Linked DNA regions of Homo sapiens: region 1 is linked to region 2. Evidence: fine-mapped expression QTL. A gene starts in region 2. The other region holds a variant in brackets. All regions are shown on one strand. Distances are from middle to middle. Region 1 overlaps UBE2D2 (ubiquitin conjugating enzyme E2 D2). Region 2 holds the start of CXXC5 (CXXC finger protein 5).

The links. PIP is the estimated chance that this variant, and not a neighbour inherited with it, causes the effect.
Region 1: its variant is the best candidate, but not a certain one, in a credible set for the expression of CXXC5 in whole blood (INTERVAL, PIP 0.81).

The regions. Positions count from the first base shown.
Region 1 is chr5:139,567,937-139,576,264 of GRCh38, forward strand. All of the region lies in intron 1 of UBE2D2 (ubiquitin conjugating enzyme E2 D2), which reads left to right. Among named protein-coding and RNA genes, the nearest start is that of UBE2D2, 11 kb to the left of the region's middle. RefSeq lists enhancers at 62-563, 7,812-7,941. The variant C/T (reference allele first, on the strand shown) is at 4,574.
Region 2 is chr5:139,643,453-139,651,780 of GRCh38, forward strand. CXXC5 (CXXC finger protein 5) reads left to right here and starts at 4,897. Exons shown (of 3, transcript NM_016463.9): 1 at 4,897-5,393. CXXC5-AS1 (CXXC5 antisense RNA 1) reads right to left here and starts at 6,276. Exons shown (of 2, transcript NR_149086.1): 1 at 5,883-6,276; 2 at 5,547-5,729. RefSeq lists silencers at 4,825-5,954, 6,155-6,324 and an enhancer at 7,117-7,617.

The DNA.
Region 1 (8,328 bases), 76 kb before region 2:
TTGAGTTTCTCTGTAGACTGACAATACACTTTGAAAATGTCTGAGATTGGGAAGTTACCGAAGCATGATCTTAAAGAAAGTAGTTGTAACGCTGAACAGTACTGTATTTTAAAAAATTGCTTAGGCTGGGTGCGGTGGCTTATGCCTGTAATCCCCCAGTACTTTGGGAGGCTGAGGCGGGCCGACCACCTGAGGTCAGGAGTTCGAGACCAGCCTGCCCAATATGGTGAAACCCTGTCTCTACTAAAAATACAAAAATTAGCCAGGTGTGGTGGCACTCACCTGTAATCCCAGCTACTCAGGAGGCTGAGGCAGGAGAGTTGCTTGAACCTGGGAGGCAGAGGTTGCAGTGAGCCAAGATCTCGCCACTGCACTCCAGCCTTTGCAACAGCGAGACTCCATCTCAAAAAAAAAAAAATTGCTTAAAAATACTGTAGGCCGGGCTGGGCGCTGTGGCTCATGCCTGTAATCCCAGCACTTTGGGAGGCCAAGACAGGTGGATCACAAGGTCAGGAAATCGAGACCATCCTGGCTAACACGGTGAAACCCCATCTCTACTAAAAATACAAAAAATTAGTCAGTGTGGTGGCAGGTGCCTGTAGTCCCAGCTATTCGGGAGACTGAGGCAGGAGAATGGCGTGAACCGGGAGGCAGAGCTTGCAGTAAGTGGAGATCGCGCCGCTGCATTCTAGCCTGGGCGACAGAGCGAAACTCTGTCTAGAAAAAGAAAAAAATGAAAATAAAAAATACTGTAGGCCGGGCGCGGTGACTCACGCCTGTAATCCCAGCATTTTGGGATGCCGAGGTGAGTGGATCACGAGGTCAGGAGTTCAATACCAGCCTAGTCAAGATGGTGAAACCCTGTCTCTACTAAAAATATAAAAATTAGCCGGGCATGGTGGTGAGCACCTGTGATCCCAGTTACTGGGGAGGCTAAGGCAGAGAGTTGCTTGAACCCGGGAGGTGGAGGTTGTGGTGAGCTGAGATCGCACCACTGCAGTCCAGCTTGGGCAACAGAGCAAGACTCCGTCTCAAAAAAGAAAAAAAAATACTGTACTAGAGGTGTGGTACCATATATTAGATTAATATTAGAGGTAAGGACTGATTGAATTCCTATCAAAATGATGAATTAACAGGTAGTCCTGTGGAGTATTGGGAACTTTAATAAATGGTTGTCTGAATATGGCTATTTAAATTAGTTCTATCTTGGATAGTTCTATCTTGGATACCTTCTTACTCCAAAAGGTGAGCTTCTTCACATAAGTTCTGGGAATTTTTTTTTCCCCACTAAAAAAGTATTTTTTATTTCCTTTACAAAAGATCATTGAATTAAGGCACTTTCTTTGGCTCTACTAGATTGTTATTTAAATATAATTCAAACAGCCATCGAGGATAACTGTTAATAAATCTAGGTTTTCTCTGAAGTCTCCCAGTGTATATTACTGTACTGATGACTGACAAGGAAGAGGTTTTGACAAGGTCCAATTCTGTATATTTCTCTTAAAATATCCTAGGCAGTTCCCAGGATAGGAGTATCTGACTCATGCCTCATGCTACCAGGAACCTTTGCAGCCTCATCCCAGAAATGCAGAAACACACTTGTTTTGTCTGTAGAAATAAAGTTTTGATGGTTAGATTTCCAGGCAAACCTTCAAAATCATGTTAAACTATAATATAGGGAAATAAAGTAGTGTTTGTTCTTCTGTCTGCAGAGTCAAGTGAGATTTTGGGTAATAGAATCATAAAATGTTAGCACTGCAGCACATCTCAGGGCTGCTGTCTGGAAAGGCCGTGTGACCTACCAGGTAAGAGTAGGTCTGAATTGAGAACCTGGATTTCTGGACTGTCCAGTGTATTTTCTGGCAAGCCATGTGTTATCCTTACATAGCTGTTAGGTATATAAATCCAGAGGATGCAGCCTTTTTTCTTTTGTTCAAACAATTGGATATTTAAACTGTGTCCTGGAACCTGAAGATCTTCCTCAACTTCCCTTTATATGATTGGCAAGGTTGCTCATACTGCTTGAAACTGCAAATTTAGGCTTGACACAGTGGCTCATGCCTGTAATCCCAACACTGGGAGGCCAAGGTGGGAGGATTGCTTGTACCTAGGAGTTCAAGACCAGCTTGGTCTGTAATGGGAGACCCTGTCTCTACAAAAGCGAAACAAAGTGAAACAAAATTAGCTGGGCATGGTGATGTGTGCCTGTAGTCCTAGCTACTCAGGAGGCTGAGACAGGAGGATCACTTGAGCCTGGATGAAAGGTTAAGGCTACGGTGAGCTGTGATCATACCACTGCACTCCAGCCTGGGCAGCAGAGCCAGATTCTGTGTCAAAACAACAACAACAACAACAAAACAACTATTGCAAATTTGGTGTTCTATTCTCACCACCACCACCACCCCGCCTTTTTTTCCCCCGAAACGGAGTCTCTACCTCTGTCGCCCAGGCTGAAGTGCAGTTGTGCAATCTCGGCTCACCGCAACCTCTGCCTCCCAGGTTCAAGAGATTCTCCTGCCTCAGCCTCCCAAGTTGCTGGGACCACAGGTGCATGCCACCACGCCCGGCTAATTTTTGTTTTTTGTTTTTATTTGAGATGGAGTCTAGCTCTGACGCCCAGGCTGGAGTGCAGTTGTGTGATCTCGGCTCACTGCAACCTCTGCCTCCTGAGTTCAAGCAATTCTCCAGCTTCAGCCTCCAGAGTAGCTGAGACTACAGGCGCGTGCCATGATGCCCAGCTAATTTTTTGTATTTTTAGTAGAGATGGGGTCTCACTATGTTAGCCAGGATGGTCTCGATCTCCTGACCTCGTGATCCACCCACCTCGGCTGGTTTGGAACTCCTGACCTCAAGTGATCCACCTGCCTTGGCCTCCCAAAGTGTTGGGATTACAGGCATGAGCCACCACCCCCGGCTTTCTGCATATATCTTTCATCAGAGTCAAATGGATTTTGTTTTTTAAGTGAAAGCAAGTTTATTAGGAAAGTAAAGGAATAAAGAATGGCTACTCCCTAGGCAGAGCAGCCTCAAATGGGTTTTTAATCTCTAAAAAGACTAAAAACCACTGTCCTTCCACCTTAAACATTATTTTAATCTCAGCAGATGAACAGAGTACCTGTTCTGCAGAGAAAATATAAATCTTACGTGTGAGTTGTTAGGGATTTCCTTCAAGGTATTAAAACAACAGATCGGCTGGGCGCGGTGGCTCATGCCTGTAATCCCAGCACTTTGGGAGGCCGAGGCGGGTGGATCGTGAGGTCAGGAGATCGAGACCATCCTGGCCAACATGGTGAAACCCCATCTCTACTAAAAATACAAAAATTAGCCAGGCACAGTGGTGGGCACCTGTAATCCCAGCTACTTGGGAGGCTGAGGCAGGAGAATCACTTGAACCCAAGAGGCGGAGGTTGCAGTGTGCCGAGGTCGTGCCACTGTACTCTAGTCTGGGCGACAGAGCAAGACTCCCTCTCAAAAAAAAAAAAAAAAACAAACACAGATTTCAGCTATCCACTTTAGAGTACTCACTGTGCATCAGGAATTACTTGATCTTTTCAATAATCTTTCAATAATTCTGTTCTCCCCAGGTTAGATAAGGAAACAGTGGGAGAAATAAACTTGCCTAACATTATATGGTTATGGTAGGAAGAACTAGGATTCAGATACAGGCGATCTTGACTGTAGAGCTATTGTGTCTCCAGATTTACTTGTTTTAGTCATAGCCCTTCTCCCCTCTAATCTCTAGAGAAGCTTTACTTTTCCCTTTGCCAAACTTAACTTTTGCTTTCCATCCTTTTCTCTCTCTCTCTTTCCCTCTTTCCTTCCTTCTCTCCCTCCCTCCCTCACTTCCTCCTTCCCTCACTCACTTCCTCCCTCCTTCCTTCCTTTTTCCTTTTCTTGTTTTTGCTCTCCGGTAATTGTCTTTGTTTTCATACTTCCAATCTCTTCTCCACTAACTCCTCTTAGCATCCAAACTTATCGAAGGTTTTCCCCTATAAAAAAAAAAAAAGCAGTAAAATAACTTTTTAAACTTCCCTCTTCCATAAGAGCTACTTCCTTCCTCATCTTTATCCTTCCCATCTCTGACATTTCAGTCCCAGAATTCTTGAAAGAATAGTCTATTCACTGTTCTGGAACTATTTAGTAAGGTCACTAATGATTACTTAATTGCCACATTCAGTGGATACCTAAGTTTTTATTTAACTTTCGTAATAGTTGACATGATTTTCATTCAGTTCCTTTGGCTTCTGATAAACTGCTTTCTTCTTCCTCATATCTGGTGTTTCCCAACTTTATTAGAATGCTTATCAAAGTAGTATTGTTGATGGAGTACAAGCCAAAGTGTATGAAATCATGCATACTTGTATTAAAATTGAGAGCACTGGCTGGATATGGTGGCTCATGCCTGTAATCCCAGCACTTTGGGAAGCCAAGGCAGGAGGATCACTTGAGCTCAGGAGTTCAATACCAGCCTGTGCAATATAGCAAGACCCTGTGTCTACAAAAAATTAAATTAGCTAGGTGCAGTGGCATGTGCCTGTAATCCCTGCTACTCAAAAGGCCAAGACAGGAGGAT[C/T]GCTTGAGCCCAGGAGTTTAAGGCTGCAGTGAGCTGTGATCATGCCAGTGCACTCCAGCTTGGGCCACAGAGCGAGATCTGTCTCTTAAAAAAAAAAATTGACAGCACAAATTACCTCAGATAAATTAATTATTATTCTTTTTTTTTTTTTTTTGAGACAGAGACTTGCTCTGTTGCCCAGGCTGTAGTGCAATGGCGTGATCTCAGCTCACTGCAACCTCCGCCTCTCAGGCCCAAGCAATTCTCCTGCCTCAGCCTCCCAAGAAAAGAAGCTGGGATTACAGGCATGCACCACCGTGCCTGGCTGATTTTTGTATTTTTAGCAGGTTTCACCATGTTGACCAGGCTGGTCTTGAACTCCTGGCCTCAAGTGATCCACCCGCCTAAGCCTTTCAATGTGCTGGGATTGCAGGTGTGAGCCACCATGCCCCACCTGATCTCAGATAAATTAATTAAAATATATAATCAAAATAATGTCACAAACAGAATTATTAAGAATTATCAAGATGAGGCTGGGCGCGGTGGCTCATGCCTGTAATCCCAGCTCTTTGGGAGGCCGAGACGGGCAGATCATGAGGTCAGGAGATCGAGACCATCCTGGCTAACATGGTGAAACCCCATCTCCACTAAAAATACAAAAAAATTAGCCAGACGTGGTGGTGGGCACCTGTAGTCCCAGCTACTCAGGAGGCTGAGGCAGGACAATGGCGTGAACCTGGGAGGCGGAACTTGCAGTGAGCCGAGATCGCACCACTGTACTCCAGCCTGGACGACAGAGCGAAACTCCATCTCAAAAAAAAAAAGAAAAAAAAAAAAGTACTATCAAGATGAAACATCTGTCATTCTTATTTTGCTATCAGTTTTAAGAATAGTATTTTTCTTACATAATAAAAGTCATCCTCATCAGGTACTCCTTTAAATGTCTTACTGTATATTGTTTTCATTGCAGTATAATATGAAAATTTGTTTCCAACAGATACATTGTAGCAAAAGAAAGAATACAGACTGCATATTTTGCAGTTAGGCTGCTGCTGACATTATTAATTATCCCATCATGGATAGGTCACCCTAATTTTTCTGAAAAATGCCTGTTCTTTGCTTGTGTTTATTTTGAAATAATACGACTACTTGGGCTTAGGAATCAAAGGACTCTGCTTTCCATTTAAAATGTCTTTCTCGGCCGGGCGCAGTGGCTCAAGCTTGTAATCCCAGCACTTTGGGAGGCTGAGGCGGGCGAATCACGAGGTCAAGAGATCGAGACCATCCTGGCTAACACGGGGAAACCCCATCTCCACTAAAAATACAAAAAAAATTAGCCAGGTGTGGTGGCGGGTGCCTGTAATCCCAGCTACTTGAGAGGCTGAGGCAGGAGAATGGCTTGAACTCGGGAAGCGGAGCTTGCAGTGAGCTGAGATCACGCCACTGCGCTCCAGCCTGGGCGACAGAGCGAGACTGTCTCTAAATAAATAAATAAATAAATAATAAAAAATGTCTCTCTCCTAGATATAAGTCAATTGGGAATGAGTACACTTGAAATATTTAATATATAATAAGCTTCGATTAAATAACTTCTCTCTTTTTTTTTTTTGAGACGAAGTTTCGTTCTTGTTGCCCAGGCTGGAGTGCTATGGCGTGGTGGTGGGGGCCTGTAATCCCAGCCACTCAGGAGGCTGAGTCAGGAGAATTGCTTGAACCTGGGAGGCGGAGGTTGCAGTGAGCTGAGATTGCACACTGCACTCCAGCCTGGGCAACGAGAGTGAAACTCTGTCTCAAAAAAAAAAAAAAAAGTAAAATTTAGAAGAAAAATATTACTGTCTTTATTACTATAATACATATTAGTAATTAGTATCTCCTGGGGAATGCTGCTGTAGTTGTAACGCTTGTAGTTGGTCCTTCCTAGAATCATGTTCTCCGGTCTTTGTTCAGTGCCTTTGCTTATACAGAGAATCTCTTCTCACCCCATCCCCTACCTCCTAAATTCTTTATTCATACTTGGGGACCCAGCAGAAATGGCTTCTCTAGGAAGCATGCATGAGGCATACAGGCAGTCAGAGTTCAACTGTAGAATCGTTTCTTAGTGTGTAGACATGATTGATTATTCCCCTATTTAGACTGAACTCTCCTGGGCAAAGTTCTTGTCTTATTCTTCGTATTCCTAGTACCTAAAGCATGGTATTCTGTGTTTGCCAACAACATTCAGTGAATGCCAATATCAGGTGGGGTGGCAAAAAAAAAAAAAAAAAAGAAAAGAAAAGGTGGAATTTTGGAGCATTTGTGGCCTTAGGCAAGTCACTTTGCGAATTTTCCTGAGCCTCAGCTTCCTTGTCTGTAGAATGGGAATTGTACCCTGCAAGCCTGTGGGGAAGATTAGATAGAAGAGGGTTTAGCATTTTGGACTACATAAAAGATAATTTTGTTGTTATTTTTTACAAATGTGCTTGGCAGTTTTATTCACAGTACCCGATACTTAGAAACAACTCAGATATCCATCATTAGCTGAATATGTAAACAAAATGTAGAAAATCCATATACTGGATGGAGCATTACCCACCAATAAAAAGGAACAAATAGTGAAACAACCCTGCCACTTAGCAGTTTATTAGTTGGCTCCAAGTTCACCCTCCCGTACTTGCTCTGCTTTGACTAAATAACTTCTGAAGTATGTATTTCAGCTGGTGAAGAGCTGGACTCTTTCACCTTTGCAGTGAACAACATGTTGGGCTTTGTCAATAGAGGGCACTAGAGGGACATTACAGAGGAAAGGGGCTTCTTAGATTTGGTGGACTTTTCTTTTTTTAAGTTTTTAAATATTATCATGGTGTCTTAACATGCCAATAATGTTGACCTACGGAATTGGTATAATCTCAAAATCTTAGGTGTCAGTGTTAAATATATGTTTCACTTTTACTTCATCGTCACCCCAAGCAAAAAAAGAAAAACCTGAATGTGAAAAGAATGAAGTCTTATAATATTTCTAAACTAAAAAAGGGATTGAATCCCAGTATTCTTCAGCAAACTTCAAAATACTGTCACCTTAATATGTTTTTAATACATGTGATATTTTTGTAGGTCTAGAATTGTGAAATCAATTCTCTTAAACATCTTATTATAGAAGTGTCTGCTGCTATCCTTTGAGCACTAACCCCACCACCTGTAATGCATCATGCCAATATAAGTGATAGAATTGCTTTGCTAAATTCTTAAGGGCTTATGTCAGGGAAAAACTTTGAAATTAGCTGGGTACAGTGGCTCATGCCTATAATCTCAGTGCTTTGGGAGGCCAAGGTGGGAGAATCACTTGGCTGGGAGACCAGCCTGAGCAATTCAGCAAGACCCCTTCTCTACAAAAACTGCAAAACTTAGCCAGGTTTGGTGGCACACGCCTGTAGTCATAGCTACTGGGAAGACTGAGGTGGAAGAGGAGGATCTCTTGAGGCCCAGAGTTCAAGGCGGCAGTGAGCTATAATCTGCACTGCACTCCAGCCTAGGTGACAGAGCGAGATCCTGACTCAAAACAAGACAAGCCTTGAAATCAAAGTTGATTTTTACAAAAGCCTCAATGGTAGGAGTTTTAGATTTCTTAAAATAATAGCACACTAATGGAGTGCGTGATTTTCTTTAGATTAAATGTTTACATATTTATACCATCTGTATTAGTTTCCTAGGGTTGCCATAATAAATTACCACAAACCGGGTGGCTTAAAGTAACAGAACTATATTCTCTCACAGTTCTGGAGGCCAGCAGTCTAAAGTCA
Region 2 (8,328 bases):
GGACCAGATTTGTAGAGAGGAGGCTGAGCCCCACCCTGCCTCCTCCAGCAGGCCTCCCCCACACCACCACACCCTAGCCTTCAGGCTTTGGGTCGGGCAGGGCACTTTCAGGGCAGGCTGGCTTCTCCTGCCCAGGGCACCCCTCCTCCAGGTGCAGGGCTCCAGATTGGGACACTGTGCCTCTGCCTCCCCTAAGGCCCCATTCAGTTACCTCCCCACCTCTCAGCAATGCTCTCCCTCCCTCTTCCTGAAGTGTGGCAGGGAGGCTGGAGCCACAGCTTTGGCCTCTGGGAGCACTCAGTCCCACTCCCATAGGACAGAGTTGAACCATGATTGTGTCTAGAGAAGCCAAGGGTTATTGTCAGGGGCACAACAGCCCCCAAACTGTCCCTCTCCCCATCAATATCCCATATACAGGCTGAGTTCCCTGTGCCTCACTGAGAACAGGGCTGTATCTGGTTGTCTATGGCGTGTATGTAGCTGTGCCTGGGCAATGGGAAATATAGCTTGCTTCCTGCTTTCTCTCAGCCTCTGTCCCCAGAGTCATTTTGTTCTGGGACTGGAGTCTTCCTTCTGTCCTCATCCCTTCCCCTCTGTTTACACAGGTCAAGGCCAGGCATTGGCCACCAAACTGACTTCTCAGGAATGGGCAAGCCTGGGTTACTTGAGAGACTTGGCTTTTTGAATTTTCATTTCACAGCTCTCTGCTCCTTCAGACGTCATGGGGGTGGGGTGGGGAGGACCTAAAGTCCAGTGGTCAGTGCGTGAGGGCCCAGACCCAAAGGCCCGGGGCCACAGTCTGGTGCGGTTAGGCTCCTCCCTGCCTCTGCCCGTGTTTGCACCCCCAGGCCTGCCCTGGGATTTTGGCTGAGGTCACAGTCCAGCATGACCCCACTGAACACTATCCTGTGCCCTGCCCCAGCAGGCAGGGTTTCAAATGCCTTTGCTCCCATCCTTTGTGATACAGGTGACAGAACTGGGGCCCAAAGAAGGGTAAACCTTAGACTGAGTTCCAAATTGGCCATCTTTATTGGAGATCCTAACTCCCACACTCCTCTCCATGTGGCCATTTCCAGTCACTGGATGTTTAATCAATGACAGATATTAGCAGATAAATGGCAGTCATGGAAAATGCCTCAGACAAGGCATGGATTGAAATCCTGGTTTTGCTACTTTGTAACCTCACACAGGTGTCCAAGCCTGTGGATTTAATAAGCCTATGTTCAAAAAGCAATTAGCATGGTCCCTGACAAGCAAGAGCTCAGAAAGATTCTGGCTACAATTGTTATTACTGGTACCTCTTTGGAGGCCAAGCTTCGGGCCCAAGGCAGGTAGGGGACTCCTCCTTACCTTCAAAGAATTTTCATGGCGGGAGGTGGTGGCGAGGGGACAAGTAGTGAGATGAGCAAATAAAAGCTATTTCTGTGCATTGTGGTCACTGTGGCCATAGGAGGGGTCCCAAAGCCAGATGAAGGACCCAAAGCCAGGCCACAGAGTACATCTGTCCTGTGCATGCACTGCAAAAAGGCACCTAGCAAAGGGAGCTAGGAAGCTGAAAGGCAGTCTGTGACCTCCTTCATGGTTTCCTGTATCTGCCAAAAGTGGGTACCTTTTTCTGATTTGCACAAAGGCTAGTGGTGGCCCTGTAGGTATGGCCCAAACTCAGGCTGGAAGTGGCAGTCTGAGATGGTTCCCAGGTGATATGTGCTCCTGGTCTTCCATGAGGAGTTCATGAGGTGAGCTTGATGAGGCCTATCTTGGCAGAGGGAATGGTACATGCAAAGCTCTGGAAATCTGGAGAGGAGTCTTGGGGTGTCAGAGGGAACTGCCAGTGTTAGATGGCATTGGTCAGCAGGGCCTGGCAGGGAAGAGAGTCAGTTAGGGAAGCCAGGCTGAGTAGGGTAGTCTGTGAGGAACCACTGCAGGATGTGAAGCAGATGAGCCTCACTGGAGGCTGTGGAAAGCCTCCCTAGAATAGCACATGGCCTCAGGGGTTTGAGAACAGCTCTGATGCCAATCTCATTTCAGTTTCCTCATCTGAATAATGGGGATGACATTATTGCAGGGGCTGCTATAAGGGCTAAATAAGATAATGTACCTTAACTGTTTAGCACAATGCCCTGCTCAGGGTAAGGGCTGCACAAATACCAGCCATGGGTATTATCAGCAGGATCCAGGAGAGCACACTCCAGGGTCCCGGGTGGACGCACCCCTCCCTAGAAGACAAGGCTGGTGATGCAGGGGCCATCTCCCCCAGCGGTGCTGGAGACTGAAGGAGCTTCTTCCTGACTTGAAGGCTGATTGGTTCAAAAAACTCAGCAAAAAGTTTAATAGCAAGGTGAGACTTCAATTCTCCTTTTTGAGGTAGGCAGAGGTGGGAGAATAGTGAACCAAGCTTCCCTTCTTCTTGGGGAAGGGGGCTGTGGTGGGGACAGTCTCACCCAAGGGCAGAGATCCTCACCCCATCCTTCCTGGATGTCCCCCGCTTGTCTCATTGGCATCTGTGGTGGAGAGTTCTTTGTGGATGGCTTGCACATGACATTTTCTGTTTCTGTAACACTTTCTGTGTGGACAATTCTGTCCTTTTCCTCTGTGGCTCCCATATGGGTTGGATAGGTGACAGTCTAGGTCTCCCTCCCAAGGTGTTAATTTCCAGCAAGGGAAAACTCCAAGATCCACCCCCTAAACTGGGCCAGACAAGTCAACACCCCTTCCCTGAGGAAGCCATCACCACTGGGACCACCTGGCCTTCCTCCATTGCAGCCTGTGGATCCCTGGCCTCCCGCCTGAGTTGGGGGTGGGGGTGGAGGCATAAGTCTGAAAAAAAAGTGGGTAATAGTCAGCAGTTCCCTAAAGTAGAATTACTACCCACCCTCTGCCATGGACCCCAGCATAAAGCTTTTTGTGGGGCGTGCATGACCTGACTCTGTACTGGCGTTAGGCTTCAGGAGATCTGTGGAATAGAGTTTGACTTCATGGATCCTAACCCTCTGAGACCTGCTGCTGACTCCCAGGGAGCAGGTCCTCCCTCACAGTCTGTGCCTCAGCTTCCCCAGAAAAGGTAGATGGAGGTGAGTTAAATGCTTGGAGATCCTACACCTGGGCTTTTGCTTCCTTTTTCCTTGCACGGTCAGTGCCCAACACAGTGCCTGACATTCACACTGAGGCCCAGCATACCTATCTTTAAGCAGTTTGGAAGTGATCTTCTGGGGGTGATGGGCGTCTTAAAACGGTTTCCATAGCAAGCACCTTACTTTTACTCACATGGGATGTTTGTTTGGAGGGGGGCATTAAAAGGACTGCTGGCAAGGAGGAGAGAGACTAAACGCCTCCCCAAGGGAGCCATTTCTTGGCATAGTAGTTAAGGGAGACCACTTCTCAGCATTCGGAAGGAACTGGTTGGGAGCAGGTGTCCACGATGTCTGGGGAGGGGTCACTTCGTGTGGTCTTGGATATCAGGAGTGGCAGAGAGGCAACACATTCCAGATGAGCTCTGCCCTTTGACACCTCCCCCCACCCCACCCCGGCTGGGTCAAGGCCCCAAGGCCACATATAGAAGGCGTGGAAGGTGGGCACCAGCTGCTGCTGCCAGGAGATCCATGCTCCATAAGCCCTCGCGCCAGCCTCGGAGACAGCCAGGCTGCGCAGAGCAGAGGAGAGGAAGCAGCGAGGTGGGAGACAGTTTCGCTTCTCCCACCGAGGCCGCGCCTGTGGCTGCAGGCGCCCGGATCGCCACAGTTAACTCCCTGTTATCTGGGCCCCAATCGATCTCAGGCTGTAACGTTTAACCCTAGGCTGACTTCCCCAACCGCCCTCCCCCTCTCCCTCCCCTGCTTGGGTCTGGGGACTGCGTTTTCTTCGCCTCGCAGAGGAAGGTCGGCCTTGCACAAATCCGCCCCCACGAATCCCAAAGAATTGGAGAAAACTTCCACTTTGGGATTATATGCAGTTGGGATTATATGAGCCCGGGGCTTGCACCATGGGTACGTGAGGTGAAGACATCTGCAGCAGCAGGATTAATTAGCCTAAGATGGGCATATGGAGGCCACTGATGGAGTGAAAGCGGGATATGCGGGCCCAACTCTGTCCCCACTGGGCGCCTACTCTGGCAAGGCTGAGTTTTCCTTCTGTCTTTCAATCAGTACCTATTGAGCGCTGCTGTTCCAAGCATTGTTTCGGGTTTTGAGTGCGTAGGCCATGGTCTCAGGGCACCAAATGTACGTAGTCGTTTTAGCCCCGGGACTCAAGAGTTGAGGCTGATGCCTGCCTGAGAGATAAAATATCCTTTCTCGGATCAGTTTCCTCACCTGAGAAATGGGAACGGGAATCTCCGCCCCTTTTCTCCCGGGGCCCTAGTGCCCACTGAATCCATTAAGGAGCTCTTGGAAGGGTGGGGTCTTGGAACACGCGTCTACCTCCCAGGACCCTCGACTAGGAATCTCTGGCCCGCCGCGCACCTGAGCTGGGGGGCGCGGCCAAATTCTCCCTCCCGGTCCTCGAAGCTTCTGGCCCCGCTCTAGAGGGGGCAGAAAGATAGCAGATTTCCCCGGAGGTGCGTCTCTAAACCCAGACCGCCTCACCAAAGCGGGGAGGTCGTCCTTTTTTTTTTTTTTTTGTAAAGTTGCGGGAAATAGGCGAAGACGGGGCGCGCAAGGGAGCTGAGCCTGGGTGGACCGCGTCAGGGCGCGGGGAGCTCGAGGCGCAGCGGCTGCAGCTCCGGCCTCAGAGCCCGCGGCGTCCAAGTGGCCCGAGCTGCGCTGGGAGGGAGGCGGCGGGAGGAGGGAGGGGAGCCGAGGTGGAGGGGGTTGGGGGGAGGAGGGAGCGGCGAGTCCGGTCCGGGTTTTGCCGGCAGCCCCCGGGCAGCGTTCATAGCTCCTGCCCGGGCGGGCGCGCGGCGGCGGCGGCAGAGGCGGCTGAGCCTGAGCGGGGATGTAGAGGCGGCGGCAGCAGAGGCGGCACTGGCGGCAAGAGCAGACGCCCGAGCCGAGCGAGAAGAGCGGCAGAGCCTTATCCCCTGAAGCCGGGCCCCGCGTCCCAGCCCTGCCCAGCCCGCGCCCAGCCATGCGCGCCGCCTGCTGAGTCCGGGCGCCGCACGCTGAGCCCTCCGCCCGCGAGCCGCGCTCAGCTCGGGGGTGATTAGTTGCTTTTTGTTGTTTTTTAATTTGGGCCGCGGGGAGGGGGAGGAGGGGCAGGTGCTGCAGGCTCCCCCCCCTCCCCGCCTCGGGCCAGCCGCGGCGGCGCGACTCGGGCTCCGGACCCGGGCACTGCTGGCGGCTGGAGCGGAGCGCACCGCGGCGGTGGTGCCCAGAGCGGAGCGCAGCTCCCTGCCCCGCCCCTCCCCCTCGGCCTCGCGGCGACGGCGGCGGTGGCGGCTTGGACGACTCGGAGAGCCGGTAGGTGTCGGGCCACGGCCCTCCCTCGACCCCCCCCGGAGGCCGGCCCCCTCCCCTTCCCCGCCTACCTCCCTCTCCTCCCCCGGGGTTCGGTGCGCGGCCGGGGCCGGAGTTCGCTGCAAGTCGGCGGAAAGTTTGGCTGCGCGGGTTCCCCCGAAGTTCAGGTGCGGAGAGCCGGGGACGGGGAAGGAGGGGTCCGTATTTGGGAGGGGCGGGGGGCGCCCGCACCGTAAGCCGCGGAGCCCCGGAGCCTGGGAGACCTAGCGCCGGTGATCGCTTGGTGGCCGCTGCTATACCCAAGCCTCCCTAAGCCGCAGTATGCTCGGTCGCAGATCACTGAGTTCAGACAAAAAGAGGGGTTTTAGGGTCTGGGACGGCGGCTTGGGCGCCGTGGAGTGGGGCTGGGACGCTCCTTGCGGGGTGCCGCCCCCCTCCCCCCCACTACTCCAGTTCGCGGGCGCTGGGGCAGCGGGCGCCCGGGGTCCTCACCTCTTGGCGTTGGGCGGGCGCTCAGCCTGCGGGGGCGGCTGCTTGTAGATCTCTGGCGCGCACTCCCCCCATCAGACCCCGCTCGCAGCCCTGTGTTGAGGGGCGACGTTAACTGCTCTGGGCGCCCTCGACCACGCGTGGCTGAGCCTCCCCCACCACTTGGAAGAAGCGGCGGCTACTTCTGCATTTTTCCTCCGGCTCCTCGCCCCCGCTGCCCGCGGGGTGCCCGGCGGGCTGATGAAGTTTGACCTTTTTTTTCCATCAAAGTATCTCCCCCACCACCACGGTGCCCCGCGGCCCCTCCCTCCCTCCTTTCCCAGCCTTGGGGAGTCTTTTGAGCTGTCTCCCGAGCCCCGCGTGGGCCACGCAGCGTGCAGAGCCTGGGAGGGAGAATGGGGGTGTTCCTCTAGCTGCGGAACTGTGGGGGGCGTACGTCCCCGGCGCCTGCCACGCTGCACTGGCCCCAAATTTACCCATGAAGTTCGGCCCGACCCCCCTCCCCTTCGCTTCCCCGGAGCGGAGTGAGGGGCTGAACCGCCGCGAGAGGAATGTGTTAATTTTCTGGCTGGGGGAAGTTGTCCTCGCCCGGAATGGGCTGCTTTCCGGCGGGGAGCGCGGGGTGCGCCTGGCTTTGTTTATTTGTAGGATCGACGGAAAGCGAGTGACCCCGGTTTTTAAATGGGGGGCCACCTTCGGGACCTGTCAGAAGAGCTGAAACGCCCAAAGTGGGAGCAAGATCTCTTTTTGTTCTTTTTTCCCCCCCGGGAATCTGAAGGGGTGCGCGGAGTTGGGCTGGTGCCTCGGGCTGCAAGGAAGCACCAGTAAATTTGGGGGGTTCTGTAGTGACTCATTCGGAAAGACCCGCTCCCTGAAGTCTCCCGCGACGGGGGTCTGAAGGTTTGGCAACCGCGCCCTCCTTTGCCCCCTGGACTTTGGGTGGTCTGAGAGTCGCGCCTTCGGATGGGGGGGGAGCTAAGGGGGTGACCAGCGGACCAGACTCCTGACCCCCACCTTTCCTCGCGCGGCGGGCGCTGTTTGGAGCCCTTGGATTTGTGGTGGGCCCTGTCCCCCCCACCCCCGCATTTTCTTTGGAAGCGTTGGGGAGGGGGCGTGTGTGAGATCGCTCGGCCCTCGCCCCCGCCGGAGCCGCCCCAGGGCCGCCGGCAAACAGAGTCCCTTTCAAGTTTTCCGCTGGGGCCGCCTGGCGGGGGCTGCGAGCGCGGTCGCTGCGGACTTGTTTGGAGCGCGATTTGAACGCCCGGCTCCACCTCAGCTGCCCCAGGCCGCGGGGTGGGGGGCGTCTGTCCTTTGCAGTTGGGAGTATTTAAATTAGACGTCTTGGGGGACCTACTGGCCTAAGCTTCACCTGATCCCCCTCCTGAAAGATGCCCGTGCCTTGGTTTCCAACCGCCACTAGAAAACCGGGAACTGAGACCGAAGCCCCCTCTAAACCCCTTTCTGAGAGCCGTGCGGGGAAACTCAGGCCGGCGGGCTACCTACCCGTAACTGCGTATTGTTGATTTAGCAGTTTCCCTAGATGAGAGTCAGGCTGGAGCTTGGGGGGGTGGGGAGTGGCCCGCTCTGCAGCTGTCACCCCCCTCCCAGAACGGAAATTGTCCTCTCCTTGGGGAGGAGGGAGAGGGGGTGATGGTTTGATTTTTGCCCTGGGAAGAGATGGGAACAGCTGAAGGAGATTGGCCTCCGAGTTCCCAGCCAGCCCCCGGAACTTGGGTAGAACCCCCCTACCCCTCATCCTCGCAGTAGCTGGGTCTCTCCCAGGGACGCCCCTAGTCAGCCTTGGCCTCCCTCTCCATGCCACCTCCCTTTCCAAGGTGAGCCTCTGCAGAAGACAGACCCTTGGCTGGCTGGCTGTCGGGTTGGTGCCTTATTTATGTGTGTATCTGGTCCTGGCCGTTTTCCCCGCTCAGCAGGTGACCCTGGCCAGGGCCTCCTATCTCTCCCGCGACAGAGCCTGTTGACTTACCCGAGGGCCAGTGGCCTCGTCTTTATCACGTGAGGCCTGGAATGTCCACCCAGCTGGGCTAGGCTGGGCTGGGCTGGGCTGGGGTGGGTGGGGGAAGGGGAGGGGAGGATTCTGCATCCAGGGCACCGGCCAGCACAGGCCCATGTTCCATGGGTTCCCACTGTGACCCTCAACTCTTGCTGCCCCTTTCCTGCTCTGCCTGCCTCCTACTCATTTGGCACATGTGAAACTGAGACCCATAGGAGTGTGGGGGCAGGCTTGTATCTGGGTGAAGAAACAAGTCCAGGGGAATGAAATACCCTGCCTTCTTCAGGACTGACTGCACCTTGTTGTTTATGGGAGGATGGAGTGGAGGGAGTCTTGCTAGGAGGGAGAGAGGGATGTGGGCTGGGCTGACTTTCCAGGTTGCAGGATAGGGTGGAGGAATGAGGGAATACGGGTGAGCCAGACCCAAGCCTGGGT